Linked DNA regions of Homo sapiens. The protein of the gene in region 2 purifies or fractionates together with the protein of the main gene of each other region. This does not show direct contact. Each region holds a gene or a part of one and is shown on either strand. Other genes may lie near its edges. The genes, in order: MYO5C, SPDEF and MACIR.

Region 1 (3,825 bases), on a different chromosome or scaffold from region 2:
CTGTGCGTGATCACTGTAAAGCCACACCTTTCAAATCAGGAGGTGTAAGAAGTTGTCTTTAACCTAAGGGAAGAGGAAACAGTTTGCTAAAAATAAGGCCATTACCTGCTGGAACTGTCACAGTAGGTTCTAATTAACTTGTCTCCTCTTGTTGTTTTCAAAATGATGTATTCTAATTCAAAGTAAAGACTGTAGAGACAATTCTAAATTATTTTCTTCTTTTTTAGGGGGTGTTGTGGGGAGGGTCTCACTCTGTCACCCAGATTGAAGTGCAGTGGCACGATCTCAGCTCACTGCAGCCTGGACCTCCTGGGCTCAAGCGATTCATCCACCTCAGCCTCCTGGGTAGCTGGGACTACAGGCGTGCTCCACCACACCTGACTAATTTTTGTATTTTTAGTGGGGACGGGGTCTCTCTTGTTGCCCAGGCTAGTCTTGAACTCCTGGGCTCAAGGGATCCGCCTGCCTTGGCCTCCCAAAGTGCTGGGATTACAGGTTTCAGCCACCATGCTCAGCTCTAAATTATTTTCTTCTTTTGCTGCGTAGGCTTCTTGAAAAAAGTTTTGAACTGAAAACACAAGACTATGAGAAGCAGATTCAGTCTTTGAAAGAAGAAATTAAAGCTCTCAAGGATGAGAAGATGCAACTCCAACACCTGGTGGAGGGGGAGCACGTCACTTCTGATGGCTTGAAGGCGGAAGTGGCCCGCCTGAGCAAGCAGGTCAAGGTAGAGCGGCTCTCACGTTCAGCCCCGCCCTCTGGTTACGTCATTTGATTGCAATTCCAAGTTCCCACAGATTAGACAGCTAAAAGCATCTGTGTAAAGGCCACAGGCAACTGGAGCCTGATTCCTTCAGTCCTTCCAACTGTGCACCTCCAGGCTGCCTTTGATTTAGCAATCATTGTATTCCATATTTTAAAAGTCAACTTTCTAACTTTTTTGAAATTACATTTATGTAAAGTTATTTAAATATGTCGATGTAGAGAATACTCCCAAATTAGACTGTAAATTGAGGTGAATCCTTATTATATAATCCATCACTATAAATCTATAAACACCTGCATTAAAGTTAAGTTACCTTATTATCAAAATCTTTCATTTAAACTGTTATTAGAAAATTTACTAAAACAATTATCCAATGCACAGTGTGGTGAATGTAGTTAATAAGAGCATATTGTACATTCAAAATTGCTATGAGTAAATCTTAAATGTTCTCACCACAAAAAATGACAAGTATTTGAGGTGATAACATGTTAATCAGCTTGAATTATTCCACAATATATTCATAAATTATAACATCAATAAAGCTATAAATTTTCAATGGTAGAAATTTTTAAGTAAATTTTTATAAAGCTGAGAAGGAAAAATCACATAGAATTTTTAAAACTGCATAATGATATATAAAAATATTGTTACCTGCCGGGCACGGTGGCTCAGGCCTGTAATCCCAGCACTTTGGGAGGCCAAGGCAGGTGGATCATGAGGTCAGGGGTTCTAGACCAGCCTGACCAACATGGTGAAACCCTGTCTCTACTAAAAATACAAAAATTGGCTGGGCGTGGTGGCAGGTGCCTGTAATCCCAGCTACTCAGGAGGCTGAGGCAGGAGAATTGCTTGAACCTGGGAGGCGGAGGTTGCAGTGAGCCGAGATCGCGCCACTGCACTCCAGCCTGGGTGACAGACCGAGACTCCGTCTCAAAAAAAAAAAAAATTGTTACCTGTATCTATCATTAAAAATATATAAATATTCCTGGGCAATTTAATAAAATGCTCTAGAGAAAAATGAATGAATGGATGAAGTAATGATCCATGCTTGGACAATCAAGGCTTAAGTGAATTGTTTCCCTACCAGAAAAGTTAAACCTGAGTGTACCTACGTTCTTAAATGTAAGACATTTCATCATTAAGTTGGAAAGCTTTTAAGCTTCTACTAAATATGTGAAATACATATTAGTAGAGTATTTGTAGGATTATGGAAATAGTCTCTGTAATTGTCATGAACTAGCCATGCGTGGTTTAGAAGAGCTTTTGGAATTGCATCCGGGTGGCCACTGAATTCCACAACTGAAGTGTCTGTCTTTTCTGGGCCCCGTCCCCTATTGTTTAAAAGTAGGAGGTCAGACCACATGATCAGGAAGGGTCACTTTCATTCCTGTGACTGCTTCACTCTTAGCAGCCACATGAGCCTGATGTCAGTCAGTCTGTGGGAGTCCTGTCATCTGGCTGAGGTCTGAGGTCTGTATCTTAAATGTAGGAACTTGTGAGACTGCGCTTGCAGAGAGGTACCAGTAGGTGTCACTCACTTCCTCTTTGGTAGCTAAGACTGGTTCACTCTCCAATGTGATCCATTAAGATTACTTGGGGCTGGGCACGGTGGCTCAGGCCTGTAATCCCAGCACTTTGGGAGACTGAGGTGGGCGGATCACGAGGTCAGGAGATCAAGACCATCCTAGTTAACACGGTGAAACCCCATCTCTACTAGAAAAAAAAAAAAAAATTAGCCGGGCGAGGTAGCACACACCTGTAGTCCCAGCTACTCGGGAGGCTGAGGCAGGAGGGTCGCTTGAACCTGGGAGGTGGAGGTTGCAGTGAGCCGAGATTGCACCACTGAACTCCAGCCTGGGTGACAGAGTGAGACTCCGTCTCAACAAAAAAAAAAAAAAAAAAATTACTCTGGGTTTTTGTGTTTTGTTTTTTGGGTTTTTTTTGAGACAGAGTTTTGCTCTTGTCACCCAGGCTGGAGTGCAATGGCACCATCTTGGCTCACTGCAACCTGCCTCCCAGGTTCAAGCGATTCTCATGCCTCAGCCTCCCAGGTAGCTGGGATTACAGGCATCTGCCACCACACCTGGCTAATTTTTTTTTGTATTTTTAGTAGAGACAGGGTTTCACCATGTTGGCCAGGCTGGTCCTGAAGTCCTGACCTCAGGTGATCCACCCGCACTAGCCTCCCAAAGTGCTGAGATTACAGGCGTGAGCCACCGTGCCCAGCCTACTCTGGTTTTCAAAGAAAATAACTCATGATCATCAAGTTATATGTGTTATAGTCAGTCTTAAAAGCCTAAGTAAATGCAAATCTGACTTGGAACATTTACTGAAACATTACAAAGAAAAGCATGGCCTTCAGGATTTGGATAGTCCTGAGTCCCCCATAAACCTGGCATGTGACCCTGAACGTGCCAGTCAGCCTTCAGTTAAATGTAGCTGCTGTTTGCTAATTGAGAAAAGATCACTCTACTTACCTCATAGGCCTGTTAGGAGGATTAGGTCTTCTAGGTAAAGTGCTCAGCACATATCAGTTTGATTCTCCTGCTTACTCTCTGTAGAAACAGGGGCTGGAGCCCTTAAATACTCAGGGTAACTGAAAAAATATCAAGGAGAGTTTATTCACCTCTGCTGTCCCTGAAAGTCCTTATATCTCCCTCAGATACAAAGCAAAAGCACAGACCTGTGATTCTTATTCAAGCTGAGCTCACAAGGGAGAATAAAGGCAGAATACTGCCTCTTCCCCACAACCAGAGCTGCCCAGGCCACCTCCTTCCCAACAGCCAGCTAACTCCCAGACCTCCTGGACTCACCAGTCTCTGCCACTGCTCCACATCTAAGCTGAGCTGAAGCCAAAACCCACAGTTATGAAGGTGGCAACTTTGCCCATGTCCTTGCACTCAATATTTTATTATCCATTAAAAGAGAATTTTAGCCCGTGATTTTACCTTTCTCAGTCTTCCCCCTGTCCCACCCCACCCCAAGCTTATAGTAGGTATTTTTTTTTCTTTATGTAACAGGGAAGTTAATTTTTTTTTTTTTCGAGGTGGAGTTTTGCT
Region 2 (3,600 bases):
AAATATAAAAATTAGCAGGGTGTGGTGGCAGACACCTGTAATCCCAGCTTCTCAGGAGGCTGAGGCAGGAGAATCGCTTGAACCCAGAGGCAGAGGTTGCAGTGAGCTGAAATCACACCACTGCACTCCAGCCTCAGTGATAGAGCGAGACCCTGTCAAAAAAAAAAAAAAAAAAAAGAAGAGGCTGGGCGCGGTGGCTCACGCTAGTAATCCCAGCACTTTGGGAGGCCGAGGCAGGCAGATCACGAGGTCAGGAGATCGAGACCATCCTGGCTAACACGGTGAAACCCTGTCTCTACTAAAAATACAAAAATTAGCCGGGTGTGGTGGCGGGCGCCTGTAGTCCCAGCTACTCGGGAGGCTGAGGCAGGAGAATGGCTTGAACCCGGGAGGCAGAGCTTGCAGTGAGTGAGCCGAGATTGCACCACTGCACTGCAGCCTGGGCAACAGAGCAAGACTCCATCTCAAAAAAAAAAAAAAAAAAAAAAAAAGAAGAAAAAGAAAAAAAAAAGAAATGCTTATTATTGAACAACTGTCTATTGAGCATCAGTTATATTCAAGGTGCTATCCTAGCATCTGGGGATGGATTGATGAGCAAAACAAATGAAAATCCCTGCCTTTGTGGAGTGTACATTCTAGTGGAGGACACAGAGAGTGAGCGAGATCAACAGATATGGTGCGGCACGTCCGAGGAGTGTAAGTGCTATGAGAGGAAGCAGGTGAGAACAGCAGGTAGGGATGTGAGCAGAAATTTTTCTTCTTTCTTTTATTTTTCATTTTTTTGTTTGTTTTCTTTACCATGTCCTGTGCTCATGGGCAGCAATTTTAATGGAGGGGTCAGGGAAGGCCTCATGCGGATGGTGCCATCTGAGCCAAGACCTGAAGGAAGTGAGTCACACAGATATTTGGGGGAAGAGCGCTCTAGGCTGAAGAAGCAGCAGCGTAGCAAATGTTGTGGGAACAGCAAACAGGCCAGTGTGGCGGGAGCAGAGTGAATGAGGGGAGAGCGAAGTCCAAGAGGAGGTGGGGGACACAGAGCTTGAATTCATATCATCCAGCACCTACCAGTGGGGACCCTAGGCTGGCATGGTTGGGACACTAGAGGTGGACAGAAACCTTCCTGGCCCAGGCTCACAGCTGACTGTGTGTAGAAGTGCCAGCATCCCCAAAGCTGCCCGAGGCTGGGCCAGAGGTGGCCAGAGTCCATCCAGCAGTGCCCCGACCCACCCCAGCGACCTCAGCCTTGCCTGTGACCCATCTTACGGAAGCAGGCACATGGAGAGGGCTCACCTGCGGTGATGTTGAGCAGCTTGCAGGCCGTCTCGATGTCCTTGAGCACTTCGCCCACCACCATGGACTGCACCTGCTCCAGCGAGTGCTCCTCCAAGGTCAGCCCGCCGGGCACCAAGTCCAGGCTGCCCGCTGGGGCTTGGCTGTCAATGACCGGGCACTGCTCAGGCTCCTCAGGTGGCTCCTCCCGACTGCTGGCCCCAGGGGCCTTGGCTGCCCAGCTGCTGTCCTCAGGGTACAGCATGTCAAAGTAGGAGAGGTAGAAGGCGGACAGGCCCTGCTCGGGCGTGGCGGGTGGACTGGGACTCCAGTCCCGTCTCTCGAGACCCACTGCCCCCGCTGCCGCCTTCTCCAAGCCTGTCCGCGACACCGTGTCGGGGGGCAGCAGGAGGTGGCTGGGGGATACGCTGCTCAGACCCGGGCTGGCGCTGCCCATGCCGCTGCTGTTTGGGCTGGCGGCTGTGTCTACGGAAATGAAAGAGGACTCAGGTTTGACTGCTTCTCCATCCCTGTGGGGGCCGCTAAGCTGGTTATGGGGATGAGGGGCCCTGTGGACAGTGGGCTGGGCCTGGGACAGAGTTGGGGGCTTCCGGGTCATTGGGCAGCCACGACATGGTTGGGCAGACAGGCCTTCTGGCTGGGAAAGACAGCGAGGTGGGAGTGGGTGCAGGACTAGAAATAGATCGCTCCCTCAATCCCCAAGGAAGCCAGGCTGGCTGGGAGCAGCAAAGCTCCACACATGTACTGTGCTTAAAACAGCCTTCTGAGGTTCCTGACCTCATTCAGCCCTCACAATGGAAGGCATGATTGCGCCATTTGGCGGATGAGCAAACTGAGGTGGGAACAAGGGGCCCTCAGTGTCCAAATCTTTCCTGATATAGCAAAGCTTGTTTTTCTTCTGCCTTTGACAAGGATAGGAGTGGAAGTGGCAGGCAGAGGCCACCATCCTAAAGGTGGCTATCATCTTCACCAGCAGGGGAAAGACGAGAGGAACAAGGCGGGGTAGAAACCCTCCCACACGCCGGGGAGTAGGCCAGCCCTTGCCCTCCCACAGGGCTATCTGGGGGATCTAAGTAAACTCAACACTCTCAAGGTGGCCACTGAGCAAGAGCTCACAGGTGTGTGTCTCCCAATACCCCAGGCTGGGTGCATGGTACCCACCTCCCCTTACCCTCCCTCAGAAGGTGCTGCCCCCAGGGCCCCTTCCAGCTCCCAGTGCTCTCTACTTTCCCCGATGCCTGGAGGAGCATGCGGCCACCCGGAGGCAGTGCCACATGCCAGGCTTTCCAGGAGGAGCCAGGGTGGTTGTGAGATGGGGCAGGGCTCCAGGGAACACCTAAAACCCTTAGCAACTCAGCCACCTGCTCCTCACTGCTGCCCCAAGGCCCTCCGGGGGAACCATCTGGCCTCAACACAAGCAGTCAGAGGCCTTGCTCCCCACGGGCCGCCCCGGCTTGGTTTTGCCCAGGCCCTTTTCCCTGAAACCAATAGCAGAGTGCACAGTTTGGGTGAGAAGGGGGACTGGAGAGGTGCGCAAGCACTGAAACCCCAGGACATTCTGGGATGGCAGTGATGTGGGGGCCTGAGACTTAAGAATACATCAAGACAGGCTCAGTGCAGTAGCTCGTGACTGTAATCCTAGCTCTTTGGGAGGCCGAGGCGGGCAGATCACCTGAGGCCAGGAGTTCGAGACCAGCCTGGCCAACATGGTGAAACCCTGTCCCTACTAAAAATACAAAAATTAGCTGGGCAAGGTGGTGGGTGCCTGATTCTCCTGTCTCAGCTACTCGGGAGGCTGAGGGAGGAGAATCACTTGAACCCAGGAGGCGGCTGCAGTGAGCCGAGATCGTGCCACTGCACTCCAGCCTGGGTGAAAGAGCAAAACTCCGTCTCGAAAAAAAAAACAAAACACACGCACACACACACAAAGAATACGTCAAGCCAGAGGCAGAAGATTACCAACAGATATACGCTCCTAATAATACAGAGAACCAGTTAGGGAGGAGGAAAGGAACAGATAAACCTGTTAAGGGCAAGTTAATTTGTGTCCTTTCTCGAGGGTTATTTATAGTTTCAAGCAGTGGTTCTCCAAATGTGCCGTCTGGGCCAGCAGAACCAGCGCCACCTCGGAGCTTGCTAGAAACTTGAATTCTCAGGCAGTTCACAGCCACTGAATCAGCAGCTCTGGGGGAGACTCCGCAGTCTGGTTTAACTGGCCTCTGGGTGATTCTCGTGCATGTTCAAATTTGAGGATCTTTGCTTTAAAGGTAACTGGCCAGTTGGGGGGAAGGCTTTAATCAAAGCACTGAA
Region 3 (3,825 bases), on a different chromosome or scaffold from region 2:
CAAAAGCACAGGCCATAGTTCCTAGCTCTGGCCTTGCCAAGAACTCTGCCTCTTGACCCTGCATAAATATCAATCTCTAAAATGTGGACCGTAATAACCCCCCTTCCTCCCTAATACAGTTGTTAGATGGATCAAATGAAATGAGGTAGGTGAATGCTTTACATGCTGCAAAGCTCTTTACAACGTGTGATGCTATTATTATGCAATTAATTTTTGGTATCGACTCATTGTAGCCATAAAGCAGCAACAATGTAAATCTTTCATAAGACTGATGCGAGGCAAATGATTAGAAGTCTCTTGGATAACACAACAAAAAAAGAGAGTGACTGAAAAAGCACTTTTTTATAGTTACCACCTTACTTAAGGTTTCTAGCATCTCCTCTGTGCCTTCCCTCTCTTACCTGGGAAGTTAATGTGTAAGAGAATCTATCTTTATCTCCTACCTCCCTAGTTAATAGGGTTAATTTGCTGAGACGAGGAAAACCCTCCAAAGTCCTTTTCCACCTGTAAAAGTTTCTTTGGTTGTTGGTTTTCTGTTGGGTTAAACAACAGAAGCAGTTGGAGGGGTGTCAAATGAAGCGAGTAGATTCATTTTATCTATGTAGGTGCACAGAGCCCAAGAAGTGTCAACAGTACAATACCTTATCAAACAAAAGACAAACTGCAAGAAAAAAGGCAAGGAGTTTGTAACTTTATTACTTTCCCTACCAGTACAGGAGAGTTTTATCCAAAGGAAATAGATAATTACTGAGTTTAATATGTGCTTCTTTAGCTTGAGAAACTGGAAGGAGCCAATGCACCAAGAACTGTCACTCCAAGAAACTAGCATGTTTATCAGCCTTTGCAACTTCTTCAGATGTAGATAACAGAAACACTCCCTTTCATGTATTTTGCCACCAACTATTCTCAAATTGGGGAACCAAAAAATCTTGAAAAGTAAGCCTTGATTCTACCCCACCAATGAAGCCTCTGGTTTTAACACACAGTAAATTGTAACAAAAATTGTTACCTACAGACAAAATGTTTATTTAATATAATTATCCCAAAGAATTTCCCCAATACTAATAACATTCATCTGCATTTCTTATTTAATGGATTTTTAATGGGAAAGAGGAGTTCTAAAAACGAACATTTCTTTAGCATCTTCCTTATGTCAAAAGTGATATACAATTTATATCATTTAATCTTAACTACTCCATGAAGAAAATATTATTATCCCATTTTTAAAGTACTCTTTAGTAGTAGCCCTATTTTAAAGTACTCTTTTAAGTGATACTACATGAGAGTCACAGCAGGAATTGGAACCCCAATTGGTCTGACTCCAAAGATCATTTACTTTACACTCTGGCCTCTGTTCAATGATAAGACAACATGTATAGCCTTTTACACAATAATCATGATCCCGCAAAATGTATATCAAGTAATTTCTATAAGTGAAAATCTATTTTAAGTGTATGGGTAGGCACTTTATCTAAAAGCTTTATTGCCTCATTTGTGAAATGGTTGGGGGAACTACTTAGCTGCATGGTTATTTCCAACTTGAAAAATATTAAGATTTGGTGGCACATCGTGGAAAGTCTTATACAAAATCCTTCTGAATCATGGACTCTTTCTCCTATGAGCTTCTATTTTCTAAAATCATAAATTATGCGACAGAAAAAAAGGTATCAACCAATACCGTCTGGTTATATGGTTGGATATCAAATACAGTTATATATTTCCGCTTTATTTCTCAAGACTACATCTATCACAAAGTGGGATAGATTTCATTTATACTTTTATAAATGTCAATTTAAAACAAGCAGGAGGAACATTAGAAATATCTGAATGTCTTAATCCTAAAGAATAGTTTTGACAGTCTTAAATCTCATTCAAACTTTCATATAATTTGCCTCATGTATTTGGTGACATATTCTTCTTTTTAAGCTTTTAAATGCATTAGAAAAATATTTACACTTTCAAAGAGTTTCTTTTTCAACATCAAAAGAAAGAAATCAACTAAAACTTTAGTCTGGATTTGAAAGCAGAGGAGCCTTGAAGACATTACCCAACTCTTGCACTGGAGCTGATGTGTAAATCTAGGAAATGATCGGTAATTTCATAGTAAACAAAGAGTAGTAACTGATTATTCCTATTATGCCAGTGCCAAGCCAAAAATAGAATATAAACACAATGTCCAAGGGAGCAACACAAGAAAACCAAGGTGCAGAAGCTCCATTACATTCTCACTTTTTCTAATTTTGACTCTGCTTCCTGCTTTGTGGGAGGAGGAGGAAGAGCAGGAGGAGGAGGAGGAAGAGCAGGAGGAGGAGGAGGAGGAGGAGGAGGTATATGGTGAAAAAGAGGGAAAAATAAATAAAAAGAACAAGACCAGAAACTAACTAGTATAAGATTATACGTTTTCTTTAAGACATAACCCATAAAGAAATCTACTACAAAATTACAGTAAGGGTTCTACCCCCATCTCCCACTTATAACAATTAAAAGATTGTAATATAAAAATTCCCAAAACATGTACCTTTCAAATAACACACATTTTTAGAATACTTTAAAAATCTATAATTCTCTAACGCTTGCAACTGATTTTGGCCAATGTTCTAAACACTGAAGGCTTGGAAAGATATCAACAGATTTCCTCTCCAAAACAGTCAGCAAGAGGAAAAGGAATCCATGTGAAATTCTTAGAAGATAGACTAAATGCTGCATAAAAACAAAGACTGAAGTAAATAGAGCAAAGGCTACAAGATATAATAAATGCTTCCAGTTATAAGAAGCTGAAACAGAATGCAGTGGGACATTATCCCATAAGCAATAAAAATAGGAAAAAACCAAGCAGTGGCCAAGAGCTGCCCACAGACTTCTGGATAAGAAAGTCATGGGTGACTAAGCAAAAGACACCCAACATTTCACTGCAAGTGGAGCTTCTACAAATAGAAAAGTTTGCAAACATTAACTACCAAATGTATCGAATTTCTCAGGTGATAGTTATTATCACAGGTAAATAAGAATGCCTTTCAAAAGAAGAGTGACTATATATCTCAATTCATAGTCAATACCCTGGCATAATTATTGAAAGCAACCCCCTTTAACTCTCAAAAGTGTCTCAGTTTGGCTGTTTCATTTGTTATCCTACTCAAAAGCAACATGGAAAGGCAATGACTTTTTTAAAAAGGGAAACACCCTTCTGCTTGAACGGTGAATTCCCATACAGGTCTGAGTTCTTTCTTCGGGTGTACCCACTTAGATATTCACTTATTCAGTCATTCAACAATGTTTCTTAAGTCTTATTATATATCCCCACACTATGCAGGCACTGGTGCACATATAAAGAGATGGCCTGAGACTGGGTCAGAGGGGAGGGCAGACATGGAAATAAATCCTTCTAATAACAGTAAACCTGAATGGCACTAGGAACCCAAAAAAGGGAGTGCCTTTCCCAAAAATATACAAAGCTCCATTTGGAAATGTTTATGTCCATACAAAATTCGTAAACACACAAAAAAGTCGTGAATCTCAAGCTTCAGCACAGATCACTAACAAAACAGCAGTAAGAAAAAATTTAACAACATTGATCACAAATCATAAGACTATAAATATGAGGACCAGCACATAGCCCTTTCAAATATTGGTAAATAAAAATCACATTCATCATTAAAGTTTATATTATGAAAGGACAAATTTTAGGCAGAGAAATTGGTACAGTAGAAGCTGTGAGTTCTAATTCTAGCTATCAAAACATTTATTTTCATTTTTTTCATGGCCCTAACCTGAAGCCCACCAAAACATTTTCAAGAAAGAAAAGAAAGAAAGAAAGAAAGAAAGGAA

The links.
Region 1: the proteins of SPDEF (region 2) and MYO5C purify together in Homo sapiens (affinity purification with mass spectrometry; 3 studies listed by BioGRID and IntAct, with this or other methods). This does not show direct contact.
Region 3: the proteins of SPDEF (region 2) and MACIR purify together in Homo sapiens (affinity purification with mass spectrometry; 3 studies listed by BioGRID and IntAct, with this or other methods). This does not show direct contact.

The regions. Positions count from the first base shown.
Region 1 is NC_000015.10:52,226,035-52,229,859, reverse strand, and holds part of MYO5C (unconventional myosin-Vc), read left to right. Parts: intron 1-546; coding exon 547-727; intron 728-3,243; exon of another isoform or gene 3,244-3,362; intron 3,363-3,825. UniProt on the Homo sapiens protein: May be involved in transferrin trafficking. Likely to power actin-based membrane trafficking in many physiologically crucial tissues.
Region 2 is NC_000006.12:34,542,730-34,546,329, forward strand, and holds part of SPDEF (SAM pointed domain-containing Ets transcription factor), read right to left. Parts: intron 1,756-3,600; coding exon of another isoform or gene 1,727-1,755; coding exon 1,291-1,726; intron 1-1,290. UniProt on the Homo sapiens protein: May function as an androgen-independent transactivator of the prostate-specific antigen (PSA) promoter. Binds to 5'-GGAT-3' DNA sequences. May play a role in the regulation of the prostate gland and/or prostate cancer development.
Region 3 is NC_000005.10:103,261,703-103,265,527, reverse strand, and holds part of MACIR (macrophage immunometabolism regulator), read right to left. Parts: intron 1,635-3,825; exon of another isoform or gene 1,522-1,634; intron 1-1,521. UniProt on the Homo sapiens protein: Regulates the macrophage function, by enhancing the resolution of inflammation and wound repair functions mediated by M2 macrophages. The regulation of macrophage function is, due at least in part, to its ability to inhibit glycolysis.